Linked DNA regions of Homo sapiens. The protein of the gene in region 2 interacts with the protein of the main gene of each other region in a pairwise test. Each region holds a gene or a part of one and is shown on either strand. Other genes may lie near its edges.

Region 1 (12,456 bases), on a different chromosome or scaffold from region 2:
TGCTCTTCAAAAGACACTGTTAAGAAGACGAAAAGACAACCACATGCTGAAAGAAAACATTTACAAAACACATATGTGATAAAGGACTTCATCCACAGTTGTTGTAATTCCATAATACAAACCAACTTTTTAAATGGACAAGAATTGAAGAGAAATTTCATTGAGGAAGAAATATGTATGGCAAATATAAGCACATGAACAGATGCTCAACAGTGTCATCAGGGAAATGACAATTTAAAACTCCACTAAGATACCATTACACATTCACTAGAATGGCAAAAACTTTAAAAAGACCAACAATGTCAAGTGCTAATGAGGATATGGGATAACTATAACTCTCATACCTTGTTAGTGGGAATGTAAAACTGTACAGCTCTTTTGACAACCCTCTGGCTCTTTCCTTTACTTTTCATTTTTCTTTTATTTTAGATTCAGGGGGTACATGTGCAAGTTTGCTAATGGGTATACTGTGAGATGCTGAAGTCTGGGGTACGCATGATCCCATTACCCAGGTAGTGAGCATAGTACCCAATAAGCAGTTTTTCAACTCTTCCCCTCTCCCTCCCTTCCTCCCTACTTTTAAAAGTCCCCAGTGTCTACTGTTCCTCTCTTTATGTCCATGTGTACCCAATGCTTAGCTCCCACTTATAAGTGAGAACCTACAGTATTTGGTTTTCTGTTCCTACATTAATCTGCTTAGGGTAATGGCCTCCAGCTGCATCCATGTTGCTGCAAAAGACATGTTTTCATTCTTTTTTATGGCTGCATAGTATTCCATGGTATATATGTACCATGTTTTCTTTATCCAATCCATGACTGACAGGCATCTAGGTTGATTCCACATCTTTGCTATTGTTAACAGTGCTGGGATAAACATATGAGTACATGTGTCTTTTGGGCAGAATGATTTATTTTCCTTTGTGTATATATCCAGTAATGGGATTACTGGGTTGAATGGCAGTTCTAAGTTCTTTGAGAAATCTCCAAACTGCTTTCTACACTGGCTGAACTAATTTATATTCCCACCAACAGTGTATATATAAGCATTCCCTTTTCTTCACAGCCTCACAGCATGTTATTTTTTGACTTTTCAATAATAGCCATTTTGACTGGTGTGAGATGGTATCTTACTATGGTTTTAATTTACATTTCTCTGATGATTACTGAAGCTGAGCATTTTTTTCATGTTTGTTGACTGCTTGTATGTCTTCTTTTGAGAATGCTTTTTCATGTCCTTTGCCCACTTTTTAATAGGGTTATTTGGTTTTTGCTTGTTGAATTAAGTTCCTTATAGACTCTAGATATTACACCTTTGTCACATGCATAGTTTGCAAATATTTTCTCCCATTCTGTAGGCTGTTTACTCTGTTGATAGTTTCTTTTGCTGTGCAGATGCTCTTCTGCTTAATTAGGTCCCACTTGTCCATTTTTGGTTTTGTTGCAATTGCTTTTGAGGATTTAGTCACAAATTCTTTCCCAATGCTGATTTTCTTCTAGGATTCTTAGAGTTTGAGGTCTTACATTTGAATATTTAATCCACCTTAATTTTTGTATATGGTGAAAGGTAGGGGTCCAGTTTCATTCTTCTGCATAGGGCTAGCCAGCTATCCCTGTACCATTTATTGCATAGGGAGTCCTTTTCCCATTGCTTATTTTTATCGACTTTGTTGAAGATCAGATGGCTGCAGGTGTGCAGCTTTATCTCTGGGTTCTCTATTCTGCTGTCTATGTGACTGTGTGTGTACCAGTACCATGCTGTTTTGGTTACTGTGGCCTTACAAAATAGTTTGAAATTGGGTAATGTGATGCCTTCAGTTTTGTTAGTTTGCTTAGGATTGGTTTGGCTATTTACGCTCTTTTTTGGTTCCATATGAATTTTAGAAGAGTTTTTTTTTTCTAATTCTGTGAAAAATGATGTTGATAGTTTGATAGTAATAGCACTCTGTAGATTGCTTTGGGCAGTTTGGCCATTTTAATGATATTGATTCTTCCAATCCATGAGCATGGAATGTTTTTCCATTTGTGTCACCTAAGATTCCTTTTGGTAGTGTTTTGTAGTTCTCGTTGTAGAGATCTTTCACCTCCTTGGTTAGATGTATTCCTAGGCATTTTATTTTTTGTTTGGTCTTTCTTAATGCAGGTAAACATACTATATACATAGCAATACTACTTTCAGCTATTTATCCAAATGAAATGAAAACATATGTCCACACAAACATCTGTATGCAAATATTCACAGCAGCTTTATTCATTAATAGCCCCAAACTGGAAACACATATGTTAATCAACTAGTGGATGAATAAACAAATTGTGGTATATCCATACAATGAACTACTACTCAGCAATAAAAAAGGAACCAGTTACTGATGCATACAACAACAAAGGTGGATCTCTGTTGTGCAGCTTTGAAATGATTACAAACACATAGTCTGCTATTGTGAGTGAAATTTTCTGCTGTGATAAGAACATGGAGTGTAATCTCCCTCCCTGATGACATGGCTCCTAGCATTGAAAATCTTGTTGTCATCATGGATCTCCACTGTTGGTCTGATCATCTCTCCAGAGAACATCTCATAGAAAGGTACACCTCAAACTTCAATTAGACTACATTCACAGAGGCCTGTTTCCATCCTAAATGCGCAACTAGACTTTACTAATTTGACTCTAAATGAAACTAGTATTCACTCACATGTGGTTTCTGGACTTTGTCTATCAAACGTGTTCCCTGTGAGATGTGTTCTTGTTATTCTCCCTCTCTAAACATTGTGAAAAAGGCAGGGAAAATTCTTTCTGTATGGTAATAAACTGCGTGATTTGTGAAATCATACCTTATTTTAACCACATAAAACGATCTCAAAATCATTATGCTGAGTGAAAGAAGCCAGACCTGAAGGACTACACTTAACTTACTGTATCATTCTATTTTATATGACATTATGGAAGAGGCAAAACTATAGGGATAAAAAACAGATTGGTGGTAGCCAGGAGCTAGAGAGAGGGAACTGACTGCACAGGGGCATGAGGAAAGTTTTTGGGGTAAAGGAAATATTCTATGTCTTGACTATGGTCATGGTTTCATGACTGCATACATTTGGTGAATTTTATCTGATACAAATTATACCTCACTAAATCTGATATTTAAAAAATTAAAAAAAAAACCCAACCAAGAAAAAAGAGTTAATATTCAATTTTCTAAAAAATGCATTAAGAATTTGCCCTTTCTTATGCCCTTTTAAGGTTGATGTGGTGCTTTAAGAAGCTAACATAGAAGGATAAAGTAAGTCTCTACAAAACCCAGAGAAGAGACTGGAAAACTCCTCTCTGGATCCTGCCTGGAGTCACAGCTGTACCAGGAAAAAAAAAAAAAAATTCACTAAGAATGAATACCTTGGTAAGGATTTAACAGCATCAATTTCAAATGTCTCTGTTTAGTATTTTACCAGTCACAAAATGCTGATTATGTCCTCACAGGAATAAGTATCTTAGAATATCTCTGTCCAGTAACCTTTGATTATTCTTAAAAAAAACAACAAAGGAGGCCAGGCACAGTGGCTCATGCCTGTAATCCCAGCACTTTGGGAGGCCGAGGCTGGCAGATCACCTGAGGCCAGGAGTTCAAGACCAGCCTGGGCAACATGGTAAAACCCCGTTTAAATACAAAAATTAGCCCAGCGTGATGGCAGGCACCTGTAATCACAGCTACTAGGGAGGCTGAGGCATGAGAACTGCTTGAACTCGGGAGGCGGAGGTTGCAGTGAGCCAATATCACGCCACTGCACTCCAGCCTGGGTGACAGAGACCCTGTCTCCAAAAAAAACAAAAAGACAAAGGAAATCTGAAGGCTTTTCCTAGTTGCCACAATGTTTCATACAAAAGACAACCACAAAGTAAAACTGCATAGGTAATTTCTATCATTTACTAATGGGTGATGTTCCGTAATGCACTCATGTTAGTTATTCAGTACTTAGAACATTATTTCCTCATAGGAAAATAATAGCACTATCGGCACTCACAGTACTCTGGAACCTAATAACCATTTATAATAAATGTTTCTATGGGAAAATTAATTAACATTTCTAACTGAGATAGAACACATCCCTCCTTCATCTGCTCCCTCCTCCCCTTCACCCTCTTACACACACAAAGAACTGCCTCTGAAGCTCTAGAAATCCTTTTCCTATCAAACACAACGCCAAAAGGGATAATTCTAAGTAGCTGGCAGTGTGGCTCATGTAGCCTTACTTTTCTAAAAGCCTGATATGAAAAACGGGTCAAGGGACACACAGGGCAGAGAAGGGGAAAGACATAGCTGAGGATGGAGGTGAGAAGGAACAGAGATGTGTGCTTACGTATATGTGTTGGCAAAGGGGTTGAAAAAATCCACAGTAATTGGATTGTTTCATTTTCTTCTCACTGTCAGTAGCTGAGTTAGATACAAAGGATGGTAAAGTTCTGTTTGTAATGAATTAACCTTGGCTGAGATGAAAAAGGCATAGTAGGAAACAGCCTATGTACAGGTAGTCTCCTTGACAGAATATAATCATGTTTTATCTTCCCTTGAAAAACAGAACCAAAGACCATATTGATTTGTTTAAACATGCTGATTTAAAATGTACCAAAGATTATTTTGAATGAAGCGAGAGAATGTTTTGATTTATCTAATATCATCAAACTTTTTTCTCTGAGATAAAATAGACTCTCATTCCTCTGTAACAACGCCACGGGGTAAATGAACTAAAGAATATTAAACCTCTTCTGTATTTTCTGATGTAAGAGCCCTCCTTAGGAAAGAGGTAGTGAGAATTCAGGCTGGCTCCGAAGGACAGGAGCTAAGGTGAAAAAGAAGGAAAAAGTGCTTTAAAGGCCTATTACTTAGCAACAGCCCTGGGTTGGGGTAGTATGGTACTCATCTTGCTTGCTCTAGGCCAATTTTGTAAGCACTGGAAAACAGGAGCTCAGCACGTTCCAGTTCTAGTATAAGAGGGGCTAGACATTTTATTTGTATTGCTTGCTACAGGAAGAATGCCCTGGTCATAAGACCACTAATCATAAGAATACTACTGTAAGCCCAGAGATAAGATTAAGAAGGAGGGATGTGATTGCTATACCTACATTTTATTTTGTATTCTTCCACCAAAAAAAAACAAAAACAAAAACAGATCTCTCTTCCTTTTCTGTGCCTGGACTTAAACAGTGCTTAACTCAGTTGCAACATGCATGTAGACCAGGGAAACTAAAATAGGCTGTAAAATCATTTATTCATTCAAAATTCATTTGGCAGTAGTAAAGCATTCATTATTCTAACATTATTTCGCACTTAAAGTGTGCAGAGCTTTTTGCCAGGCTAGTGGTTTTCAGCTTGGTTCTGCATCAGCAATATCTGCTAAGTTTTTGAAAAATATCTATGCTATGGGTTTTACTCCAAACCTACTAAATATATGGGGCAGAGTCCCAGGCATCTGTTTAACTACTTTGAAAAGGTTGGCATCGAGATTCCTTTTTTTTTTCTTGAGACAGTCTCACTCTGCCGCCCAGGCTGGAGTGCAGTGGCGCAATCTCAGCTCACTGCAACCTCCGCCCCCCGGGTTCAAGTGATTCTTGTGACTCAGCCTGCCGAGTAGCTGGGATTATAGGCGTGCACCATCACACCTGGCTAAGTTTTATATTTTTAGTAGAGACAGGATTTCACCATGTTGGCCAGGCCAATCTCAAACTCCCAACCTCAGGTGATCCTCCCGCCTCAGCCTCCCAAAGTACTAGGATTCCAGGCGTGAGCCACTGCGCCCAGCCAGCACCTAGATTCTCAAGTTAACTTCTGCCACTTGATAACTTATTTAACTAGCCTGCCCACACTGATTATACTGGAGTTAGAAAACTACTAGGCTGCTGAATTTGGTCCTCAGAATGCTTTTATCTGGCACAATGTTTTTAAAGGTTTCGAACACACTGTCAAGTTTTACAAATCATACTTCACATAAAACCCCAGGATCTCTGGTTTTAGAAAAGTAAAAGATCTAAAATCTTACTGAAGAAGGTAGAAGTGTCTGACCAAAGAAACATAGTAGTACTGCAGAAACATTACAGTACTGCAGGTCCATGTTGAAGGTCAGTGTAGATTCGGCTCCCATTTATGATGATAGCCATGTACCCCACTGTATGACTTTCTGCAGCAATTTTTGACTGCCTTTGGGGATACATGAGTAGAATGGAACCTTGGATGTGAATTTAAAGTACTGGTAAGAAAGTAAATGCAGTTAATAAAATGAAGGACCATGAAATCTAAGCTGAACAAAGAAGTAAAACAGGTACAGAAATGTAGAGAGGTGAAATACCGAGGTCTGAATGAAAATAAAGACTAGCCAAAATAGCAGTTAATCATAATGATAATGATGATACACATGAAGTGCTTATTCTGTGCCAGTCACTTTAAGCACTTTGCATGTATTAAAGTCTCACTAAAAATCACATAAATTAGGTACCATTATTTTCCCCATTTGAAAGGTGAGGAAACAGGCACAGACAAGCTAAGCAATTTGCGTAAGAAACAACAATGCTGACAAATGACAGAGCTGGGATTCAAATTCTGGCAATGTAGCTCCAAAGGCTATAGTGCTAACCACTATGCTAAAATGCATCTCTAGCAAGCAACTAGAAAGAAAGAGATTAAGATTCAAGAATGAGACATTTAAATTAGTGATTAAATGGTGGAATTCTGAGGTGATGAATTCTAGGGAATTAGGGGAATACCATAAATTATGGTAAACTTGGGGTTTGGGATACACATTAATCAAGTTTTCAAAACAGCACAAATCTCCAAGTAGCATCTATCAGCAGTTCTTAGCTGCAAGCAACAGAAGCTAACTCTGGCTTATGAGGCAGAAAATGAGTTTATTAAAAGCTTAAGAAACAATTTTAAGGCTAAATTTCTAGGAACACCTAATACCACACTACCCAACCAACTGGATGGAAGAACCCTGTCTTTGATAGGAAACACCAGATGCAACAATTAGCTCTGCTGTCATCTAGGAATATCGTAGCCATTGTTGTTGCTGCTGTAAGCTAGAAATACTGCTGCTGCCATGGCAGAACTGTGAGTGGACACTTCAACTCTTCCTTCTTGCATCTCTAACTTCTAAATCAGACAGTGTGAAGGAGGTGTGTCTGACTGGCAGAGCCTAAGTCAGATCCTGCACTCTTGCAAGGGAAACTAGGAAATAAGTTTTTGCTTCTACCTTAGTAAGACAAGGTTCATGATATGGGACATTCCTTAAGCATAAAAAGAGTGTTCAAAATATATTAAGCAACCATCAACATAACTAACATCCACTACAAAGAACACCACAAATAAAGCATTACCAAACAAACACAATTTAGGACAATTTGTGACATACATTTGCTTTAGCTAAGAGATGAGGATGATTCAAAATTGAACCATAACACGAACATATCTTAAAATCTATACATTAATAAAAGGTGTGTGGGGGGACATGGGTAGAAACATGAACACAAACATACAACCCACAGCTTAAAAAATTGATGGCAAAGCCCATTTTTATATTTAAAAAGCAGAAATAGAAACAAGTAAAATGACAGTGAAAACTAATGATGCATTAATAAGGCAGCATCCATCCCCCAAATTTCAGAAAATGTCTGTAAACGTACATGGCAAGATGTATGCAACATCATCCAGTATGCACATGAGAATACTAATCTAGAATTCTAAACAAATTTGAGTTTATGGATACCAACTTCTAGGAATATTTAATAACCCACTTTGCAAATTCCAAGACAGTAAATCTTAGTTATATATAAGAATGAGTCTGTGGGTTTCAGTAAAAACTTGAATTTTTGGATTAGTTCATAGCCCATCAAGGAATTACCAACCAGGCTGCTGGTTTTTATGTTGCATTAAGTTGCCCAGAGTCTCACCTTAGCTTCAATTCTACATGATTTTTTGTTTTTTTTTTTTGAGATGGAGTTTCATTCTTGTCGCCCAGGCTGGAGTGCAATGGCATGATCTCAGCTCACTGCAACCTCTGCCTCCTGGGTTCAAGTGACTCTCCTGTCTCAGCCTCCTGAGCAGCTGGGATTACAGGTGCCTGCTACCACCCCCGGCTAATTTTTGTATTTTTAGTACAGATGGGATTTCACCATCTTGGGCAGGCTGGTCTCGAACTCCTGACCTCAGGTGATCCGCCCGCCTCGGCCTCCCAAAGTGCTGGGATGACAGGTGTGAGTCACTGCGCCCGGCCTAATTCTATATGATTTTATAGGTCCGCTTCTCAACACTCTCAGACTAAGTGTGGTCTGGCAGCAGAGATTCTCAGGAGAAAGAATTTGACTCAGTGTGGGTCACATGCCTACTTCTGAATCAATCAGTTATGGTATGGAATTAGTCACCTGGAACAAATCTGGCTGCTGAGGCCTTTCTCTTGAGGAGGGCCTATGAAGATACTTCCCCAAAGGCCTCATATTTGTTTACTGAAACACCAACAACATCTGAGCCATATCGATAATGTAAAAGCAATCTGTGGTCTTTCTTGACAAACTTTCTTGATGGTCTGAGAATTCAGGTATTTTGGAATACAGGTGAGGTGACACCGTCTAAGGGGGAAATTAGAGTGCAGAGACAGTTGTCCTGATTCACATCATTTCTCTATTTCATAACTAAATTTTTCATTAAGCACACCATCAAGGTTTTTCACACAGCATTACATTCACCAGCACCTCTAGTAACAAATCTATCCTCTATATTTCCTCCCTTCCCATTGCATCAGCTGCAAGAAAGGGAATGAGTCACTGCTCTCTTCCCCATTGCTTTCATCTCATCCTTTCCAAGGTCAACATTGCAGAAGGCAGATAGGCTGAATAATATCATTTAAGAGACTCCTCTTTTCCCAGGGGGAAGGAGATCTTGCATAAGTTTTCCCAAATCATCAGGATAACCTTCCATCAGCTGATCTAAAAATGTTTAGACTAAGAAATTATATTAGTGAAAAAGTTACACTAATTTTTGTGAGATGCATCCTTTATATTGCCAATTATGTATAGTAATGATCATATCATGAAATGTGTCAGATAAACATAAGCTGTAATGTATTTGATTATGACACTTAACTCTGCTTGTGTATGCTCAGTCTTACAGAAGCTCAAGCAGCATGGCCATCAGCCTACAACTTTCAATGCCTTCCCATTGCACTCTGCACAAAATCCAACTTCTTGTCCTGACTAACGGCACCACATTTGATCTAGCATTGTCCATCTCCTTACATTTGTATGCAATCTCCTTAAAGATGTCTTGTTTGCCAACATAGCCCCTAGTCTGAGTATAGAGCCTGAGACAATGCAGGTGGTCAGTAAATATCTGTTGAGTAAATGAATGGCTATCACATGAAGGATGATTTTCCTGTTACTAACTACATCCTAAAGTAATGGAATTGAGTCAGCTTCAAAATAGTATTCACTTATTCCTATAGAGATCAGAAACAATCAGCTTACTGCCAATGCTTGCTCAAAAGGCTCAGAATAAAGTACAACAGTTATAAATATATAACAGGTTATGAATGGCAGCATTTCCTGAGTGTGTTTCTAAGGACACCAGTGCCACAAAATATTTCTTTAAAATAGCGTTCAAAGGTTACATCTTATGCCTAACTGACTAATCATCTCCATTTGGATGTCTAAGAGACATCTCAAATTTAACATGACCCAAACTGATTTGATTTCAGTAAACAATACATACATCCTCCCAGTAGCTCATACCAAAAACCTCTAAGTTTTCTTGACCACTTACTCTTATATCCTCATCTAATCCATTAGCAAATCTTCTTGGCTCTACTTTGAAAGTATATCCAGAATCTCAGCACTTCACACATTTTCAGTGTCACCATCTCGGTCTAAGCCACTATTTTCTTTTCCCTGGATTGTTATAGTTGCCTTCTCATTGGTCTCCCTACTTGGGTCCCTGACCCTCCCCACTTCAGTCTATTCTCAGCACAGTAGCCAGACTGATACTTTTCAAAGGAAAGTCAGATCATGTCACACACCTGCTGAAAATCCTCCATGGTTTCCTTTCTCACTCAGAATGAAAGCCAGTCCTTTTGATGGCTTGCACGGCCCTACCTGAACGGGACTCTGGTTATCTTTCTTTTTTTTTTTTCGAGACAGTCTTGCTCTGTTGCCCAGACTGGAGTGCAGTGGTGTGATCTCGGCTCACTGGAAGCCCCGCCTCCCAGGTTCACGCCATTCTCCTGCCTCAGCCTCCCAAGTAGCTGGAACTACAGGTGCCCACCACCACGCCTGGCTAATTTTTTGTATTTTGTTTAGTAGAGACAGGGTTTCACCATGTTAGCCAGGATGGTCTCGATCTCCTGACTTCGTGATCCGCCCGCCTCAGCTTCCCAAAGTGCGGGGATTACAGGCGTGAACCACCACGCCCGACTGACTCTGGTTATCTTTCTATACTCATTGCCTATTACTTTGCTCCAGATAACTGCATGCAAAGGAGGCTTCTACCTCAGGGCCTTTGTACTTGCTGTTCTTCCACTTGATTGAGGAGGTCTTTCTTGCCTATACTTCATAAAATAAGAAATCAACTCCAGCCCCAGATCAGTTTTCTCCAGTCCCTTTCATTGCTTCATTTTCCTTTATAATATGTATCACTAACTGTCACGTTTGCTATATTTGCGGAGTGTCTGCATCTGCTGTCTAGAATGTAAGCTCTATAGGGGCAGGAGTTTTGTCTCATTAACTGCCATGTTCCTAGTACAAAGCCCGATCAAATAAGTCATGTGTCTGAGTGTGTATGCTGAGGTGGGGGAGATATTTCAGAAACAGTATTCCTTGGAGTTTGGGAACGAAAAAAAGAGTTGGAACTTGTAGCCTTCTGACCTTTAGCTCACAAAACAGAAATACTTTAACAGGTACAAGATGAAATGACTCAATATTTAAAATACTCAACTATATTCTACACGAAACTGGCTATTTCTATAACTTAATTTCCTAACAGCTTTAAAAGTTACTACAGATGAGATGAAAAAGAACAAGTCATCTTTCTGAGCCTGAGATTCACCTGTAAAACACTCACGCCAGGCATTGCTGGGAGGAGTGCAAATGATCACTTACTCTGTGTCTAAGATTGACACCTGATTTCTTTCCTATAGATATAAAATATTTTCATTTCAACTCTTCTTTAAAAAGGAAAAATTGTGGTTTTTTTCTTACAACTGCAAAATTTGAGGAATTAAACCATTCTAGACTCCTCTTCAGTGCCCCATCTTTATCCCTGTTCCACAACCACTATCCTATTGTCAGCATGAGACAAGCTCAGCTGCACCAGAATGGTAGAAAATGTCCTTAGAACTCGTAGGGATATTAGATATTATCCTGACCTGTAACTTTCACTGAGGAATAAGAAAGAAATGTATCAGAATGAGGAGGAAAGTGTTTGAAAAACACATTTAAGGCCGGGCGCGGTGGCTCATGCCTGTAAATCCCAGCACTTTGGAAGGCCGAGGCGGACGGATCACCTGAGGTCAGGAGTTGGAGACCAGCCTGGCCAACATGGTGAAACCCCGTCTATACTAAAAATACAAAAATTAGCCGGGCGTGGTGGCGGGCGCCTGTAATTCCAGCTACTCGGGAGGCTGAGGCAGGAGAACCGTTTGAACTCGGGAGGCGGAGGTTGCAGTGAGCCGAGATGGCGCCACTGCACTCTAGCCTGGGCAACAGAGCAACACTCTGTCTCCAAAAAAAAAGAGAAAAACACATTTAGTATTATACTTTTTTTTTTCAGAGGAGAAAACCCCTAAAGATTTGGTAAGAGAAGGAAAAGTTCAACATAATTTTCTTGGTTGATGGGGGTGCACTAAAGATACTGAGACTCAACCAAAGGAATATCCCATTAGGGGGCTGTGAAATTTTTGTGTTTATCAAAATAAGGTAAAAGCTTTTTTAAGAGCCTGAGAAACTCTTATTTAGACTAACCCACTAAAAATATTCACAGTTTAAAAAATAAACAGAAAAAGAGTCCCAAAAAAGTTAATAGACATGTCCAACTCAGAAAACTGGGAAGTGGCTCAAACCCTTCTGAGTTCTAGTCCAGTTCTCCAACATTATATATTGGCTACGATTAATCAAGATTTAATTGTATACCAGCTGCCGAAATGTTTCCCGTACAATAAAAATCCTCAATATGAAATAAAGGTTTCATATTACTAGTCGAGTTCTTTACTAACAAATTTCCGACCTTGCCTCCCATATCCACATCTAAGAAGGGAGGTATATCTCTTCAGCATTTACTAAATGCTTCTTTTGCATACCATTAAGTCACTTAATACAATTCTGCCGGCTCAATGGTACTGTACCCACTTTGCAGACGACAAGCCGAGGCTAGATGAAGTTAATCATAAAATCAGCGGCATTGAAACTTAACTCAGTGTAACCCCAAAGCTCCCT
Region 2 (12,456 bases):
AAAATACACCCCTTGCCACCCCCAGCAACAGTGGGACCCAAGGCCTCAACAGGTGAGCTCTATAACTCCACTTCTAAAACAAAGTGATAAAACTGTCCTAGAAAAGGCTCAGCTCCACGTGGCTAAGGAAAAAGAAAGAGGAGTGTCATGAAATGAAGCACATGTGAAATGGGAAAGAGGATTCTTAAAACTCCTTCCCCAAAACCCCTTTATCACATACACTCAGAACACACACACACAAAGGCACACAGTATTTCTAAAACTGCTCTGTTACAAAGCAGCTTACTAGTTCTACTAGTAAACAGCAGTCTACTAAGTACTGTCATATGGAAATGAATGATACAGCTTGTAGCTGGTCTTGACAGTGATTTCAGGGAACCATAAAGAGATCCATGCTTCAAAAATATACTCCCCGCATGACCAATGCTCAAAACTTCCTTAACAGCAATGAACCCTTTCACTTAAACTTGGAGACGGTTTAAGTGAAACACTGTGGAAATTCAAACTGCACAGACCCATGTTTTGATAGGGAGAACTTCAAAATCCAGGGAAGTTTACTAATCCTTCCAACAGATATTGTTTTGATCATCTACTACCTTGTACCAGGTACTGTATTAAGTATTTAGAATACATTGATTTTGACAAAACAGACAAAATTCCCTGGCCTTGTAGATCTTACATTCTATTATCCTGAAGTGTAAATTCATATATTTATCAAGATCATATTTTTTCTGAGTCCTATCTGGTTACTACACAGGTTTATTAACTGTCATGTCATGACAGTCAATACAATTACAATAAAGTAATTATATTCTATGGTATGAAAGGAACACTGAGAAGGGAAGTGTTTTGCCCCAGCCTGGTTCTCCAGGGAGAGGTGACAAAGAGGTGGCTGTCAGCCAGGAACCAGGCTCTGGGTACCTTTCACTGTTGCTGCAGATGAATAATCCAAAATAAACCACACTAAAGTCATATAGCCATACAATGCCATAAAAAATGACAAAATTCTCAATTCAGAGTTTTACGAGGTGCCAGGTAAGAGCATTACCTGTTCATCCCCCAAGAATGATTGTGTTTATGGACTAAAAATAAATAGCAGCTTCTATTTTATCCATCTGGTAACCCTCTTCCAGCATTATTCTCCCTTTTTACTGCTTACATTTTTTTAAATAAAAAAACAAATCATCTCAGAAGGGGTAGCCTTTTCCTACATTTATGAAAATCAAATTTTGCTGAGTGATATTGGGTCACTACATGGCAGGTTTATTAGTTATGATGTCATCTGGTTCAATAAAGTTACAATGAAAGAACATGAAACTCCTACTGATGACAGGCTGAATTTTTTTAGAAAAGGAACTTGTGAAAAGAATATAAAATAAACTGATGCCATTGCCACAGCCTCCATTTTCTTTAATGCTCTTTAATACGCTTGGCAATTGCATTTATAAGACATAAACAAGAGCTCCCTGAGGAAGCTTTTGTAAGATCTGAAAACCCTATAAAGACATGATGTATATACATTTATCTAAATCTATCTAAGCTTCTACAATCCTTTGCTGAAAACAAATTTACCAGATAATTCAAAGGCTAGTGCTCAAGCCTTATTCCTTTTCATTTGACTTCAAAGCTAAGTTTTGAGATCAACTCGACACCTGGCCCTGTGCTGGCCACTGAGTGTATAAAGCGAGGAAGATCCAGCCTTGGTGTTGACTGGGCAGTCTCAGTGGTTAAAAAAGTAAACTGAATAGTCTAAATAGAACACATCAAGAGCAGGAAAGGGTAGCAGGAGGGCATCCAGCAACGGACAAGCCAATAACAAGCATGAATCATAAAGTCAGGTAAGATGTTCCCCAGAAGATACCAACTCAGCTGAGTCTTGAATAAGCTGAGAGGTGAAAAGTGCATGGAGAGTAGAGCGAAGAGCCTGAGAAATATTCTGAGACATGAAGCAGCTTAAGAGTGTTCTAGGAGAATAAAATCAAAAGTTAGCTACAGTCAAGGTGGGCATGAGGAGGAGACATGCAGCCTATGCTTACGAGCTGGGATTTCTCCTGTCCAGAACCATTGAGGGCTTTTAATCAGGGGACTAACATGATCATATCTGCAATTTAAAGTATTATTCGTGCAGTATCTGCACAGATGACAGAATAACAAAGGGTAAGCCTAACCAGTAAGAAAGCTGCTATCATGCCCAGTTACAGATGGTGAGGCCAGGAGATGAAGCCTGCAGAGCCACACCGTCAACACAGAGGAAACCCCACACCAGTGGGTCCCTGGTACACCACCCGAAGGATCCAAAGGATTCATTCTTATTTTATTTACTTACTTACCTACTTATTTATTTATATACGTCTTTTTGAGATGGAGTCTTGCTCTGTCATCCAGGCTGGAGTGCAGTGGTGTGATCTCGGCTCACTGCAACCTCCGCCTCCCAGGTTCAAGAGATTCTCCTGCCTCAGTCTCCCTAGTAGCAGAGATTATAGGTGTGCACCACCATGCCTGGCTAATTTTTGTATTTTTACTAGAGACGGGGTTTCACCATGTTGGCCAGACTGGTCTTCAACTCCTGACCTCAAGTGAGCCACCTGCCTTGGCCTCCCAAAGTGCGTAGATTACAGGCATGAGCCACCATGCCCAGCTCCAAAGGGTTCATTCTTAATGGATTTAAAGACTTTATAACCTCAAAGTAACTTTTAAGAAATTCCAATGTTATCTCTAAAACTTCCCCAAAATAGTATCATTTAGTTCTTTTTTTAACATTTGAGGCCTTAAAAGCAAAAATTTTTCAATATTTTTAAACTGTCTTTGGCTTTTAACCTATGGCTTTATTAAATATCTTCAGCTCTTAAGGGTAGAGATCATAACAATAGCACAGAGAGCAGGCCGGGCAAAGTGAAGCACATGCAAAATGATGCAGATGACAGGAACTAACCAGGTAATTCAAATGCACCAAAATTAGCCAATAATAAATACAGTCATTAATCCAGCCAGGTACAGTGGCTCACACCTGTAATCCCGGTTCTAAGGGAAGCCAAGGCGGGAGGATCATTTGAGCCCAGGATTTCATGACCAGCCTGGGTAACATAGCAAGACCCCTGTCTCTACCAAAAATTTAAAAATTAGCTGGGCATGGTGGCAGGCCTGTAGTCCCAGCTACCAGACAGGCTGAGGTGGGCAGATTGCTTGAGCCCAGGACTTGGAGGCTGCAGTGAGCTATGACTGTACTCCAGCGTGGCCAACAGAATGAGAGCCTGAAAAAAAAAAGAAAGAAGAGAGACAGAGAGAGAGAAAAGAAAGAAGGAAAAAGAAGTTCAGCCCTGACATTTCATATAAATAAAAAAGATAGAGCCTCTTCTTCAGTGAAAATAATTTTTAAGATATTTTTGACAATTTCATCTTTAAATCAGCAAGGTTGCCAAGAAACACTGTTAAAAAGTTGCCATGTTTGGGGGGGAAAAGTAGGATTAATAATCATCATCATCTATCCTAAAATTAGTATTGAGAATTACAAGAGACCCAGAAATAAAATATCCTAATTAAAGTTTCTATAATAAGAAACAGTGAAGGGCACAAATGACCTATCTTGATTGGCAATTTCTCCCATAATGATGGTTGATTAAAAATGTCATTACCCTTAAGACATTGCTTGTAGTCAGCTGGAGTGACACTACTGCACAAGTGTGGGCAGTCTCACACATTTTCTCACTACTTAAGTATCAAGCCACTCAGGCTAGAAATCTGTAATTATTTTTTATGCTTACAATCCTCTTTATACCACTGCAAAGATGTTTAATTTTAATTTGCCTGTGTACCTTAAATGTCAAGATTCCTGAGAGACAGTGACCCACTTGTCCTGCTGAGAAGCTAAATGATACATGTGGCAGCCTTAATAAAATTCTCCATGCTCTAGGAGATAATAGGACCAATAGTCTGGTCAGATCACCCTGGAATGTGATGCTTGCTTCAACTCCATGTTAGGAGGGAGGGACTCTGCTACCTTGAAATTTGCCCAGAGCAGAGGTAGAATAGTGACAGGATCTGAAACCGGGGGCTCCATCCAAGCCATCTCTCTCCACTGATCTCCTCCACATCCCTGCTCCACATAACTGACCCATGACATTCTGTAGATTGCATCGCAGAGATCACTCCTGTGTCTTCCCCTCCTTTTCCACTGACACTGCAATGCCTGTGGTTTTGGTTGAGTCTTTTGTACTAACCTTCAAACTGGCTCACACTCTCTCCCAGATCCCATCTCATTCAGTGCTGCCAGCTTGATTTTCTTAAAGCAATGTTCTAATTATGACTTTATCCTACAAAAAAAAAAAAGAAAGGTTCTACTCTTTAGCCTCTGTGCAGAGTCCCTCATGAATTTGCTCCATAATACCCTCTCTATTCTATTTCCTGTTAACCCCCTTTATCATGAACAAATCTCTTCCAGACATACTGAAGGATTGGCCTTTCCTCATACAACCTCTAGAACTTTCCATATCTTATCCTTTGTGCAAGCTGTCCCTTCTTCCCACACACCTCAGGCTCCCCATATCCAAATGCTATTCATCCATCAAGGATTATTTCAAATGCTCTTTCCTCCACAAATCCTTCCCTAAGAATTTCCACCAAAAATAATCTCTCCCTGTATAGCTATAATATATTCCATGACCTACCATTGTATCCTCCTTGAGGGCAGGCTTTGGATCTGATTTATACTTACCTTATCCAAAGCATGTAACTGTTTGCAAAAGATGAAACAAAGATTGCCAACCTCACCCTGCAGGCCAGAGGAAACCAATGAACACGTATGTTTAGTTCACAGGTGCACATCTCCAGTTTCTCCTGACACATTAAACATCTGGCAAAGTAGGCCTGCTCTCTGCAGCTTGCCAGTTCCTGCAGTCCCCACCAGCCCCTACTGTCTTGTCTATTGACACTGCAGATGAAGCAGAGGATCAGTAGCTATTTACAATCTCTTGCTCTCCTGGTTGCTCTCATGTATAGTATTATATCTGCCTGGGTCTAAAAGACAAGTGAGTCTATAATTCCCATAGTAAATTATCAATAAGTAAGTATTGAAGGATGAAAGGCTGTCATGTGAGCAACAGCTGAAAGAACTAAGAATGTCTGAAAAGAAAAATGGCAACTGCATGTTATGACTGCAGTATTTGAAAGTGGAAGTATAATTATATTTGTTCTAAATATGTCCAGAGACTTAAAGAGAGACAATGGCGGAGATCATAGAACTTTTTGACTTTTGGAATTGCTCAAAAGCAAAATGGGTTTTCTTGTGAGAAATGGATTTCCTTCCCTGAGCTATTCAAGCTGCCCACCCACCTGCCAGGGGTCTGAGATGGGAGGCTACACTGGCCCATGCCACTCAGAGAGCCTATCACTGTGGCTCCTTTTCTAAGCTCCTTTGCTCTCTTATGGGGAAAAAGAAGACGAACAAAGTAGCACACAGTCTATGCAGATGCACTGCTCATGGGGTACATGCAGGAGAAGAGGGTTCAGAAGGAAACCTTAAGAAACCCTGTTATTTAAGCACAGTGGAAGATGAAGCACCAGCAGAGAAAAGGCAGTCAAAATTAGGAAGAAGTGTCAGGGAACTGTGTGGCCCAGAGACTAACAGGAGAGAAAACTTCCAAAAATTCCATTTCCAGTGCAGCAGAGTTAAAGTCCTGTAAGAATATAAAAATGCCCATTGGATTTAGGGGATGATGAGTTCATCAGTGACCTTGGCTTGAGAAGTTCCAGCAGAGAGGGATGGGGGCAGGGGCTCATGCCCCTGAAAACCCTCAAATTTATATTAAGGCAGTAACTCCAGATGGGATTATATATACAGGAACAATATCATTACAATTATGTTAGAAGTTTTAGTTTGATAAGTTTAAGCATTTAAATTATACTACAACTGTTCTAAACCTTTTTGGCAATTATTTATGATTTGTTAATATAAACTAAGCAAAAATAAAGAATAAAACAAAATAACTGAGGCCAAAGACAGCCTCAGGGAGGGCTGAGGTTTTAGCACAGTGGTGGTGTGAAGTCAGCTTTAATTTCTAAAAAGAACTGTGCTTCTTGTGTGGATTTTTTTTTTAATTTAAGAAGACAGCCCACTGTATTTGCAGGGGGTACCTCCAGTTAGACAAGGAAGATTGTACTCAAAACATTTATCTGCCCTCCCTCCTCAATTCTCACTAAATGAAGAGGGCACAACTTGCCAGAGCAACATGAACAAGACTGGAGAACAAGAGCAAAAGAGAAATGCCCAAAATAATGGGCGGCGGTAGGGGGGTGGTGCTGGAAAGCAGACAAAGGTAGTGAGTGATTCAGCAAAAAGAGAAAGCTAAAAGCTAAGTAACTACAGGAAGAAGGCCACAAGAGGCAGGTAATTCCTACCGCAGAACCCAGATGCTATGGTTTGAATGCCTGCATCCCCCTCCAAAATCCATGTTGAAACTGAATCCCCAATGCAACAGTATAAGATGTCCAGGAGGTGATCAGGTAAATCGGATGAGGGCTCTGCTCTAAGAATGGGATGAGGCTCTTATAAAAGGGCTCCAGGGAGCCTGTTTGACCCTTCTGCCTCATACCATGTGAGGACGTAGCACCGAAGCACCATGTACAGAGCAGAGGAAGAGCCCTCACCAGACACCAAATCTGTCAGCAGCTTGATATTGGACTTCCGAGTCTCCAGAACTAGGACAAATAAATTTCTATTATTTATAAATTACCTACTCCACAGTATTTTATTATAGTAGCCAAACAGACTAAGACACGAGAAAAGACTCAGGAGGTGGAAGCATTAGAGATACTTCTGAATGTGGCAGTGCAAAGTAGGAAACTGAAAACAGAAAAACAGATTTAAAGTTTTTAAAAGGAGCAGTTAAACCTCATCATGCATGGTCAGGCATGATGATGAGATCCCTGGCAGAAGATGAAGGAAATGTGGACTTGCTAAATGGTAATAGTCTCCTGTCTGTGCCAACAACCAGAAAGCTGGTGGCCAACTTGAGCCATCCCCAACCCCAAAACAAAAACACAAACAGGAAACAAGCATATTCCAGATAAACCAATATAAGCAACAAAGACTCCTCCAACAACATGGCCAGGTCCTTTCTTGATCATGGTACTGTGAAGCCCAACAGCCCTCAATCCCTGCCCAGGTGCACAGAGCTTCTGATCTGCTTCCTAGACTCATTCTTAAATAGGAACGAAGAGCCAAAGATCACTGGACTTTTGAGGAGAACCTCCGAAATAAAAGAGGGATGCCAATATAAATAGAAAAAGAAACCCAGAGTAAACAGAGACAGGTAGGGATAGAAAAGAAGCAATATAGAAAAGAATGAAGAAAGATCATACATTCATGAAATAAATACTGGATGTTGTATTTTTTTTAAAAAAAAAGGTTTTTAATTGCAGCGTAAGTTCAATGTTTTAGAAATTAAAAACAAGAAAGCAGAAAGTAAGAGTTCAATCAAAAGACTAAACGATTAAAAATTGAGGAAATCTACTAGAAAGTAGAAGAGAAAGGGAAGAAGAAAGTGGGAGTTACCAAAAGAGGAGGAAAAAATAAAAATACAAAATTTATCAATGAAATAATATAAGAAATATAAGAAAATTGCTGGTAAATAAAAGACACAATTATCTTGACTGGAAAAACCTACCAAGTGCCCAGCATATAGTGCAGAAACAATCCCACCAAGGCATATGGTTGTAACATTTCAAAACAACAGTAGTAAAGAAAACACTGTAAAAGGTTCCAGAAAGGAAAAAAGAGAAGAGACACATAGAGGGGGTTGAGAAGCAGAACGGCGCTAGATCTTTCAACTGCAACGCTGGAAGCTTCAAGCAATGTAATCATGATGTCAAACATCAAACGAAGTCAAGAATACTTCCAACCCAGACTGCCGCTCCAGGCTAACTCCAATCAAGTGTGAAGTATAATAAAGACACTTACAGACACATAGGCATCCAAGCATGTAGCCCTCACTTGCCCCTTTTCTCAGGAAGTTCCTGGAAGATGAACTGTACAAGCAAATAAACCAAGAAATTCCCTGAGATGACGGAGCAACTCAAAAAAGAGGATGGCACGGCATCCAGAAAACATTCGATCTAACACAGGAGACAAACGAGGGGACTTCCACGGCATCCAGGAAACATCCGATCTAACACAGGAGACAAACAAGGGGACTTCCCAGGCTTGAGGTCCAAGGAGCTGCGAGAAGAGGCTGTTAGGAGAGGCCTGGAGAGCAGAAAAGAAAAGCAGCCTCCACAGGAAAAAGAAAGGACAAGGAGGAGCGAGGGAGGGAAGACAACCTGATGCACGCTAATGTCCTAAGAGAAGATCCGTCATATGTTAGAGAGTTTGCAAATTAATTACCGACAGATAAAAAATTCAATTAACAAAAATGCATTAACTCCAGGAAAATACAAAACACTGTTTAAGTGAGACAAAATATAATCTCAGCTGGAAACAACAGTTGCAGTTGTAATAATAAAAATAATGAGTATTAATTTAAATAAAAATTAATTTAAGTAGACTCCAGGGGAATGAGGCATGAGAAATTACATAATGGATACAATGTACACTATTTGGGTGACAGTTACACTAAAAGCCCGGACTCCACCACTATGCAATATATCCAAGAAACAAAACCGCACTTGTACCCCCTAAATGTATACAGATTTTTAAAATTAATTTAAGTATACAGCGATAATACGAGAGTGAAATCATAAGAAAGAGGGCAATAAGAAAACTGGCCTCGTCCAGGTGCTGTGGCTCATACCTGTAATCCCAGCACTTTGGGAGGCCGAGGTGGGCGGATCACCTGAGGTCAGGAGTTTGAGACCAGCCTGACCAACATGGTGAAACCTCGTCTCTACTAAAAATACAAAAATTAGCTTGGTGTGGTGGCGGGCGCCTGTAATCCCAGCTACTTGGGGAGGCTGAGGCAAGAGAATCACTTGAACCTGGGAGGTGGAGATTGCAGTGAGTCAAGACGCACCATTGCACTCCAGCCTAGGCGACAGAGCGAGACTCTGTCTCAAAAGAAAAAAAAAAAAAGGAAAGAAAATTGGCCTCGTCTTCAATAGTAGAGAGTTCATACATAGCTTACTACCAAAGCATAACAGCATTATTATATTCTTACATTCTTGGAGGTAACCACAGGAGAAACAGCTAGAAAGTTTCAAAGTAGTTGTTACTAGGGAACAGCAGCCGTAGGTGGGGAAGAGCAGGGGATAACCACAGGCAGAAAGAACCACAGGCAGAAAGAGTATTATTCACCTTTTTTTTTTTGAGACGGAGTTTTGCTTTTGTCGCCCAGGCTGGAGAGCAATGGCGCAATCTCGGCTCACTGCAACCTCCGCCTCCCAGGTTCAAGTGATTCTCCTGCCTCAACGCCCCAAGTAGCTGGGATTACAGGCGTGTGCCACCATGCCCAGCTAATTTTTGGATTTTTTAGTAGAGATGGGGTTTCACCATGTTGGTCAGGCTGGTGTCGAACTCCTGACCTCCACTGATCCACCCACCTCAGCCTCCCAAAGTGCTGGGATTACACTTGTGAGCCATCACACCCAGCCTATTCAACTATTTTGTATATATTCTATTTTGATAAAGATAAAACATTATTTAAATAAGCGAATGACAGGGTATATAGAGCTTACAAATGGTTCCTCTGAGGAGCTTAAATATCCTAGGGGAAAAAACAACTACTCAAGACATGGTTATTTTGGTTACTTTTCTTGAGTTTGCAGAAATATTGGAAGGGAAAGAACAATAAGGAGGAAATTATTACCATGACAGAGAGGATAAGGGGAATCTGAAGGAGGAAGGTCTCCAGGGAGGCAGGAAAAAAGGGTTCTGGATCATGAGTATCCAAATCAGGCCTAGACAGAAGTGCAGACACTTCTTCTTCAGTGGGCAGGGGTGGAAGAAGGAGGAAGAGAAAAGCACAAAATGCTAGGTGAGGAAGAAACACACTTCATGGTGAGAGGGCCCAGATGTTGGTCCATAGTCTCTGTTTTAGAGTGAGGCAGAAGATTAAAGAAAATTGTGTTTGAGAAGGTAGCAGAAGAAAATGGTAAGTTCAAATTGATGAAGTAAATTTTATCTCAGAGCAGGACTAGGCACACACAGATGCAGTGGAGTATATGTGCTTAGTCATTGCTCTCTGCTCCCACAACCCTTTGTAACACTTGCCACATCAAGTGTACACTAGTACTTTAAAGAACTGGCTTTTCACTAGGCTATGAATCCTCAAGAACTGTCTTATAAATTTATATGCAACCAATATTGATCATGGCACCTGACATGAAATGTATTTTTGTTTTGTGGATATATAAACATTTATTTCCGGAAGTTCAAAGCATCTCAACACATCAACACACATGTACTTCTTTAAATTGCTTTTTATATGCCAGAACAGTCAGCATTCAATAATTTTACAATATCCTTTAAAAAACAGTAAGTAATGTCCCATCAAAGCTAAACCCACACCCCCAAAAAAATTCAAGTCGAAATTTCCATCTTAAACTGACTCTGACTAAGTACATATAAAGCCCAGTAACTCTTTTGGGCAATGCTCACATGCTGACTAAACTCAGAACAGCGAAGGAGACTACATGAATCTATGACTATCTCATGGATTCTAAATTAAAGCTTAGAAACATTTACAATGAATAAAATAAATCCATAGCTGGAAATCAACAGCTGCCTTGATTAATAACAAACCTAAAGATTTTATAGTTTGAGGTATCAACTTTATCAACTTGGAATTAATTTTCGAGCACAGTCTCTATTTATCAAGTACGTCCTAATATTTCAACATACTTTAATTTTTCCCAAAAGAAAAAGACAGTTATTATTCACTATGAAATGCATGCTATTAATGCTACATTTTTTAAAAATCTGATTTCCTCTTTCCTACGATAAAGCCAAAAACTGATTTCCTTGGTAATTACCTAACAACTTTTGCACAGAACATTTCAGATCCATCTCAAATAGGTTTGCAAGTGGTAGGAGAAGTTTCATGGGATGGAACTTAAATAAATAAATAAATAAATAAATAAAAGGAAGAGGTTTGTTTACCATTTAAATCTCTGGCTGAGTTTAGAGGCTGTTTCTTATTGTTATTAGTTAAAATTATTTTTGGCAAACTAATACAGTAGAGAAAATTAACCTGAGAAGTCTACCTTGAATGCCACGTTATGTCAATAAATTCTAATCTTTGGTTTCACAAAGTAGCAAAACAGAGAATTATGATTATCTAAGTGATTTAAGCTAATCAACAATTTTGGACAAAACGCAGATTACTGCACCTGCATGTACCTGTCCTCATATTTCACAAGGTATAAGGTGATCAAACTAAGGTTTTTCCAGTAACATCATAAGAAGCAGAACAACCGACTGATAATCTTCATAATTTCACTCTTTTGTCCTTTCAAAATTGTTTCAGAAGGTAATTCCCAAAAATGCTTTATATTATAATACAAAGGTATCCTGAAAATAGAGATACGTCAGTTGTACTTTTTAAATTGTGCAAGTTAAATCACAGTTCAATAACTCTACGCTGACTTCTAGTTTAAAAGACCACACAAACATATTTTCTAAAATACCTGATTTTGACTTCAGGATAACCTGAATGGTATGTCCATCATTGGTGACTTCACAGTCTCGGCACACCACATAATTTGGGGAGAGGCGGACATCCAACAGCGAGGGGTCATACCTAGCCTCTCTTGAGTTTAGGTTAATAGGAGACTGGTATTCCCCATTAGCATCAGGAAACACCAGACCCCACTCAACACCTAAGAACAAAATGAAATAAATTAAAAACAGGTTAAAAAATAAATTACAGTAAAATTTAACATGTAAAAACTAAACACTTAGAACCCTTGATATCATGAAGAGAGTAATGATACCATCACTATACAGATGAAATATGGTAATTCTATTTGTTTTTGCATTCATTATTTGAATGATCTGTTATTATCAAATACCATACACAAAATCCCGGACTAGCAAAATATTCTATTTGTATTTGTCAACAAAGACATAATAATTTATGATTCTAGGAAATTTGGGTCATTTTTAAGTGATTAGGAAAAAAGAATACCAGAACAATTTCTTCTGCTTATTAGTTCAATTACGTTCAGTACCTGGGAAACAGCTGTAACTTTCAACATACTTAGTGACAGTCAGAACCCTAACTCTCATGCTAGTAAATAGACGCCCCTTATCAGAAATGCAAGTGTAGTATTTTAAAGTGTGCATATGTATATATCTGTGTACATACATATTCCCATAGTCTTTCCAAATTTTTTATAATTAAAATTATATATTCTATATTGGTTTCAACATATGTAGTAAACATCAGCACTACTGGTTGGCTCTAATAGGAGCCCTAGGTCTTTAGGAATAAATCTAGGAAACTCGAGTTTTTCAGAAAGTCAACCGCT

What was found.
Region 1: the proteins of CA8 (region 2) and INTS7 interact in binary tests that used the Homo sapiens proteins (3 or more experiments, as listed by UniProt).

Annotation. Positions count from the first base shown.
Region 1 is NC_000001.11:212,022,337-212,034,792, forward strand, and holds part of INTS7 (integrator complex subunit 7), read right to left. Parts: intron 3,347-12,456; exon of another isoform or gene 3,225-3,346; intron 1-3,224. UniProt on the Homo sapiens protein: Component of the integrator complex, a multiprotein complex that terminates RNA polymerase II (Pol II) transcription in the promoter-proximal region of genes.
Region 2 is NC_000008.11:60,268,076-60,280,531, forward strand, and holds part of CA8 (carbonic anhydrase-related protein), read right to left. Parts: intron 11,806-12,456; coding exon 11,614-11,805; intron 1-11,613. UniProt on the Homo sapiens protein: Does not have a carbonic anhydrase catalytic activity.